2 linked regions of the Homo sapiens genome follow. The protein of the gene in region 2 interacts with the protein of the main gene of each other region in a biochemical or structural test. Each region holds a gene or a part of one and is shown on either strand. Other genes may lie near its edges.

Region 1 (3,745 bases), on a different chromosome or scaffold from region 2:
AGCTACTCAGGAGGCTGAGGCAGGAGAATCACCTGACCCCAGGAAGCAGAGGTTGCAGTGAGCTAAGATCGTGCCACTGCACTCCAGCCTGGGCGATAGACCAAAACCCTGTCTCAAAAAAAAAAAAAAAAAAAGGAAAAAAAGAAAAGAAAAGAAAAGAAAATAGAAAATACAAGTCAGGCTATTTCTCCTAATACCTAGTGCTGAGCTGCTGCTATTAATGTTCGTCTGTCTTTATTAGGCGACATTCTCCAAGCTCATGCTGTGTGGTGGATTCCGAGCCTGGCACAGGGACCCAGAGATGAAAATGCCACCTGTCCCCACCCCAAAGCCTCCCGTCTGAGGGAGGAGAAAGACCCATGTGAACGGTTACAGGGAAAGAGCACGTGATGCCACAGGGCACAGATCCCAGAGACACAGACCAAAACGGGCTGCCGCGTTCTGCTTCAGGTAGACAGAGCTTAAGCAGCTCCATGATTCCACGTCAGCTGGAGCAGGGGGACAGGTGCCTTTGGTGGCACTCTGGTCAGTGCAGCCTCAGTGGAGGCCATTCCACATCCCATACCATTGCCCCAGCGATGCCACTTTGAGAGCAAATCCACACAAAACTCTTGCAAAGATGAGGTTGTGTAGACCATGATTCTGATGCATTCAAAACGCTCTAAATGCCCCTATGCCAGTGACTGGGTGAACAAGTCATGGTTCAGTTGAACTTTTTTTGAGTTTGTTTGTTTGGTTTTTTTTTTTTTTTTTTTTTTTTGAAACGGAGTTTCACTCTTGTTGCCCAGGCTGGAGTGCAATGGCGCAATCTCGGCTCGCTGCAACCTCTGCCTGCCAGGTTCATGCGATTCTCCTGCCTCAGCCTCCCAAGTAGCTGGGATTGCAGGCATGCGCCACCACGCCTGGCTAATTTCTTTGTATTTAGTAGAGACGGGGTTTCACCATGTTGCCCAGGCTGGTCTCAAACTCCTGAGCTCAAGTGATCCACCCGCCAGGGTCTCCCAAAGTGCTGGGATTACAGCCGTTAGCCAAAACCCTGTCTCGATAAATGAATAAATAAATGAAAGGCTACAGGCCTCAGACGTTCGTTCTGGAAGGTGCTGAGGAATTTGTTAACAGTGGTTGCCTGGAAGGCAGTGGGGAGAGGCTTTCCTTTTTCAGTCTGGTATGTTCCAGTTTGTTTTCAGCCGGGTGTACTGCATTAACCCTGCAAGAAGAAAATGGAAAGAATTTGAAAAGATGCTGGGGTGTGCAGAGGAAGGGCACGCGAGTCTGGGAAGAGGTGACATCAAAACCAGGTTTTTTGTTACCTGTCAGCCCCCATGTGAAGTCCCGGCGGGGCCCCTCAGCCTGCCTGAGTGGGAGGGGTGCCCAGAGGGTCCCATCTGTGGGTGGTGGGCGGCTGGGTGGGTCTCAGGGGGAGGCTCCGTCTGGGCCCTGTGTGGCCTCAGTGCCCTGGGACGCTGGCGTTTGTCACCTGCTGGCCGTCCCTCCCAGGCAGGGATGGTGTGAGCGCCCTGGTCCTGGTCCGTAGCACAGGACACGCACACCTGCCTTCCACGAGCACCCCCATGCCCATGGTCTTGGGGGGCTCGGCAGGTGCCCTCTGCGCCCCCCACAGTAGGTGTGCAGGCTCCGTCCCACCGCGCGCGGCGGCACGAGGGTCCCACCCAGGCCGGCCAGGTTTTGGGGCGGCCTCGCGCCCAGGCAGGTGGGACGCTGCGCGCGGATGGGGGGCGGGCGGCGGGCGATTTCCCAGCGGGTCCCCGGGGCGCGCGGGCTGGGGGCGCCGGAGCGGCCGAGGGAGGAGGCCACACGCTCGCCTGCACCGCTGGGGGCCGCCCGCGGGCCTTGCCGGCCAGAGCGCAGCGTGCGCCCCGGGCCCCGCGCCGGCACTCGCTCAGCGACCGCGGCGGAGACACGAGCGGCGGCGGCGGAGCCCAGAGGGCGGCGGGAATGCGGAACCGGCGCGCGGGCTGAGGCCGCCCGGGATGGCGCAGGGGCGGCGGCGGCGGGCGGCCTGCGCGGGGCCCTAGCGAGCCGGGCTGACGCTCCCGGCCCCGGCCCCGGCATCGGCATCGCGGGCGCATCGCGGCCATGGCCAAGGAGCGGCGCAGGGCGGTCCTGGAGCTGCTGCAGCGGCCGGGGAACGCGCGCTGCGCGGACTGCGGCGCCCCGGGTAGGTGTGGGCCGGGTGGGCGCGGGGCCGGGTGGGTCCGGGGTGGGCGCGGGGTGCCGGGCGGGTCCTGGGTGGGCCCCGGGGACCGGGCGGGGGAGCGCGGACGCCGCGGGGGTGGCGGCGCTGAACACCGGGCCGGATCGGCGCTCGGATGGGGCCCGGGCCCGGCTGCACCTGCGGGGACCCGGACGTCTTCCCGGGCCGGGCGCAGCGGGGGGGCCCCCCCCAGGACCCCCGGAAACCCCCCTGCCGCCGCCTCCCCTCCCCCGCCGGGCTGCGTGTCTGACGGTCACCGCGGACCGCCCGCCGCGTTGCGAAAGCTCGGGCTCCGCACAGAAAGAGGAAATCGGGGCTGGCTGCAGGGAGGGAACGGGCCGCCAGCCGGAGGTCTCTGCTGGGCTGTGGGGTCCGCCGGCTCCGGGGCCACCTCGCGGTGACGTCATGCCTCACGCCCTTCCCGCACCGGGGGTCCCTGGGTGTGAGCGGCGCCCCTGCCCCCGGCTCCCTGCACCTGGCTGCTCCGGGGCGGGCGCCAGGACAGGTGAGGCCTGGGAGAGGTGGGGCCGGACGCAGGTCCTGGTCCACCCGCCGCCCGCCCGTTCGTTCTCCCGGCCGGGCATCCCTGACTCGGTTCCCAGGTCTGTGGGATTTCAAGGCACTGGAGTCCAAAGGCGCGGAGTCCCTCCCTTCCAGGCCACTGGTCCTGTCATTGGCTGTGAACGGGGCCCAGTGCCCAGACCAGCCCTGCCCTGCTCGGGAGCTGTCAGCCCCAGGCCGGCTGCGCTGTGGAGAGAGGGCCCCGCCGGAGCAGTCCCGCCACCCCAGGCACACCAGGAATCTGGGGGCCAATAGTCTAAGCCCCTCGGAACAAACCTAAACTCACCGGCGGTGACTGAGGCCCCCAGGGAGGGAGCGGGGGAAGACCTTGCATTTGCCTCCAAGGCCCTGGTTCAATATGCAGCCTCTGGACACCCCGGAAAAAGGGGTGTCCCTGATTCCCTCTGGGATGGAGGGGTCTCTGCCAGCCCCAGGTCGTGGTGGCTGCTGTCCAGCTGCAGCTTGGCTGGAAAGGCCACATCAGGAGCTGGGGTGTCCCAGAGGGGAGATAGCGACAGGCTTTTCTGGAAAGACAGGCAGGACCCACGGCCTTTCCATGGTCTCCTGAGACAGGACGGCCACAGGGCCCGTGCAATGGTGCGGTGGGGGTGGCCCCCTGGGCTGGCTCACCCCAGACTCTCTCCCCACAGACCTTTATTTCCTCCTGTTCAGGAACGCTCCCCAGGAAAGCCAGTGGGAAAGGGCCTGGCCTGGGGTTGCTGTGGCCCACGGGGAGGGGAGCTGGGCTTGCCTCTGAACCTCTGCTCCCTGGCCACACAGCCTGGGAGCAGCTTCTCTGGACTCAGGGCCCCTCTCCAGCCACCCTCTGGGCCTCCCAGCCTGGCAGGAGGAAGAGGGGACTTCCTTGGCCTGCTGGGTCCTTCAGTGGTCCTCCCCTCCCAGTGGGTGCAGGTGTGCCCGGCCCACCTGCTAAGCTTCCAGCCTGGCCCACCCCAGAGCTGTTCTCTG
Region 2 (3,745 bases):
TTTAGTAATTAATTGCATCAGGTATGCTTGGACTTGGAGAATTGTGTTTGCCAACTTAAATCAAAAGGAAATAGAAGAGATACAAACACTTGAAATTTAATTTTGTGCCGGGCATGGTGGCTCACACCTGTAATCCCAGCACTTTAGAAGCCCGAGACGGGCAGATCGCCTGAGGTCAGGAGTTCGAGACCAGCCTGGCCAACATGGTGAAATCCTGTCTCTACTAAAAATACAAAAATTAGCCGGGCATGGTGGCGGACACCTGTAATCCCAGCTACTTGGGAGGCTGAAGCAGGAGAATCACTTGAACTCGGGAGGCAGAGGTTGCAGTGATCCAAGATCGCGCCATTGCACTCCAGCCTGGACGACAAGAGTGAGACTTCGTCTCAAAAAAAAAAAAAAAATTAATTTTGAGTCTAAACATGACAAGTAGAGAATCTAGAAAATATAGGCAAAGGCTACTGGTTCAGACAATTCTGTTCAATCTTTGTTCCTTCTCCAACATTCTGCCCAACCCTGGGAAAGAATGCTCCACCCCACTTTTTTGATAATGCTACTTAATTTAGAATGCAGATAAAGATGAGAAGAGATTAGTGTTGCCAAAAATTTTGTTTTGCCAATTTCAGGAACTTTATCACTGATATTTGATATTCACCTTTGATTAACAGCTAAAGAATTAGGATCACCAATTCCTTTACACATTTATTTTCAGTCACATTTTTACAACTAAGTTATAAAAACTAAATTATTTTAAAAGCTGAGAAGCATTTAAGAGAGTATTAAACTTTTTTTGAGGTATATAGAATCTTGAGATGCAAAAGAAAATATTACTATTAATCTAAACAGATGAAATTTATGTTCATTTGTGAACAAGTATTTGCCATGCCTTGAAGATAAATCCCCCCTCCCCACCTCGATTAAAAAGCAAATTTATGTTATGGGCCAGGTACAGTGATTCACACTTGTAATCCCAGCTACTCAGGAGGCAGAGATTGGAGGATTGCTTGAGCCCAGGAGTTTGAGGCTGCAGTGAGCTACAGTTGCATCACTGCACACCAACCTGAGTGACAGAGCAGGACCCCTGTCTGTAAAAAAATAAATAAATAAAAATAAATAAATCCTAGCCGGGCACGGTGTCTCATGCCTGTAATCGCAGCACTTTGGGAGGCTGAGACGGGCAGATCACCTGAGGTCGGCAGTTTGAGACAAGCCTGACCAACATGGAGAAACCCTGTCTCTATAAAAATACAAAATTAGCCTGGCATGCTGGCGCATGCCTGTAATCCCAGCTACTCGGGAGGCTGACGCAGGAGAATTGCTTGAACCTGGGAGATGGAGGTTGCGGTGAGCCGAGATCACACCATTGCACTCCAGCCTGGGCAACAAGAGTGAAACTCCATCTCAAAATAAATAAATAAATAAATAAATAAATAAATAAATCTTAAAAATAAAATAAGTAAATTAATAAAATGCAAACTTAATGAGTAAGGCTGATGCTTCGGTTCCAGGTCTTTACATGCACCTAGTAGTTCTAATTGTACAGATGCTTTAAACCAGATGACCAATGAAAGAAAGCTAACTGTTTTTGAGGTGTCTAAGTTTACCTGTGAATGAAATTCTTATCCATCCATGCAGCATCCAGGATTGTTCTAAGAGCAAGGACGCAAAGTTGTAATTCTCTGAGGGAGGGACCATGCCTTCTTGTGCTCACCATTGCTATTTCCAAGTCCTTAGGACAATGGCTGCCATGTAGTGGATGTTCAGTGTGTATTTGTTGAATGAAAGACATATTTTAAAAGGAATATTTGCGATTTCATTAGGTGCTTCTGAGATTAATTAGAAATGGCTAGAGAGTTTATCACTTATTTTATTTGGACTTAAAATACCCACATTTTTTCTACCAAATATAAAAGAATCATTCATTTGGAGAGAGACTGGGGAGTTGGTGACACCCACTTTTGCATGTATTTACCAATTTTTGTGAACAGGGGCTTGAAAACTGTTTTACAAAGGAGATTTTCATTTAAATTTCACTATGCCTTCTTCACCTTCTAGCCAAACCCTCTACTCATACTTCTCAAAAATCCTAGAAGACCGTAATTGTCAGATTGTTAGTATTTTATAGCCTTACGATATGTAGCATAATATAAGAATGAGTGTTGAAATTGTGTTTTTTGCCCTTTTGCAGTTGGGTTCTTTGTTTTACTCTCTTCTCCCCCATAAAATAGCTGAGAAACTTTTTAAAAATTACCTTAACTGCCTGCACTTTGCTTCCCAAGGTGAAGATTCTAAAGACAAAAGGAGTGGCTCTTCTCTGCTTCTGCCTGTTTCTCTGCTCATTTAATGAGAAAAGAGAAAACATCACAACTAAAAGCTAATTTTGAATAACTAACAAAATGTCCACTGCACTTCAGTTCCATTCTTTCTCTTAAACCAGGGAAGGAATGATTTCTAATTAGCACTGAGTGAGCCTAAAAGAACTAAATCCCCTTCATATTAGATGATAAGGGGTTTATATTCACAGGTCTCTGAGAATACTGATACACCTATATCTACAATAGGTGACAAGATCTGGCCAAATTTGGAAAGACAAAAAGAAAACACTGAACACCATGTGAATGTGAATGCCTTTAACAGCCAAGTATTTAAAACTTGTCTCAACAGTACAGTTGCTACAAGGAGCTAATGACTGACTTTTGCTTCACTTCTATAGGACTCTGAGGAGGAAGAAAATGAGCTGGAAGCTATTAACAGGAAGCTAATAAGTTCACAGCCTTATGTACCTGTGGAGTTTGCTGACTTCAGTGTTTACAATGCCAGCTTGGAGAACAGGGAATGGTTTTCCTCTAAAGTAGATCTGTCAAACTCACGGGTCTTGGAGAAAGAAGTGTCCCGTAGCCCTACCACCAGCAGTATTACCAGTGGCTACTTTTCCCACAGTGCCTCCAATGCCACCCTGTCTGACATGGTGGTCCCTTCTAGTGACAGCTCAGACCAGCTGGCCATTCAGACGAAGGATGCAGACTCCACCGAGCACTCCACACCATCGCTTGTGCATGATTTCAGGCCGTCCTCAAACAAAGAGTTGACAGAAGTCGAAAAAGGCTTGGTAAAGGACAAGATAATTGTGGTGCCACTCAAGGAAAACAGTGCCTTAGCCAAAGGGAGCCCATCATCCCAGAGCATCCCTGAGAAAAACTCCAAATCACTGTGCAGGACTGGCTCATGTTCAGAACTAGATGCCTGCCCCAGCAAAATTAGCCAGCCAGCCAGGGGATTCTGCCCCAGGGAGGTGACGGTAGAACACACCACCAACATCCTTGAAGACCATTCTTTCACAGAATTTATGGGAGTGTCAGAGGGAAAAGATTTTGATGGTTTGACAGATTCTTCTGCTGGAGAGCTTTCCAGTAGGAGGAGTCTACCAAATAAAACAGGCGGCAAGACTGTCTCCGATGGGCTCCACCACCCCAGCCAGCTGCATTCCAAGTTAGAGAATGACCAGGTAATAATTCCAGAGGCAGCCTTTTGGGTTCTGTGCTGTCAATGAGTATGTCTAACTGTATGTCAACCCCAGAGGCCCTTCACCGCAACAACTTGGTAGGAAAGATTCATCCAGTTGTTTGTGACAGCAAAGATGAGCCCACAGAGAAGCAGGCTCACTTCCTGCACAGCTGTCTCTGTCGGAGAGCAAGTCTGTTTTGGGAACTAGAACGCAATTGTGAAATTATAAGACCAGTGGATT

Evidence for each region. Proteins that work in one complex are often made in the same cells at the same time.
Region 1: the proteins of KIF13A (region 2) and ADAP1 form a complex in vitro, tested with the Homo sapiens proteins (one study listed by IntAct).

Annotation. Positions count from the first base shown.
Region 1 is NC_000007.14:952,830-956,574, reverse strand, and holds the start of ADAP1 (arf-GAP with dual PH domain-containing protein 1), read left to right. Parts: upstream 1-1,894; 5' UTR 1,895-2,097; coding exon 2,098-2,179; intron 2,180-3,745. UniProt on the Homo sapiens protein: GTPase-activating protein for the ADP ribosylation factor family. Binds phosphatidylinositol 3,4,5-trisphosphate (PtdInsP3) and inositol 1,3,4,5-tetrakisphosphate (InsP4). Regulates the incorporation of CD63 and CD9 into multivesicular bodies.
Region 2 is NC_000006.12:17,763,915-17,767,659, reverse strand, and holds part of KIF13A (kinesin-like protein KIF13A), read left to right. Parts: intron 1-2,713; coding exon 2,714-3,550; 3' UTR 3,551-3,745. UniProt on the Homo sapiens protein: Plus end-directed microtubule-dependent motor protein involved in intracellular transport and regulating various processes such as mannose-6-phosphate receptor (M6PR) transport to the plasma membrane, endosomal sorting during melanosome biogenesis and cytokinesis.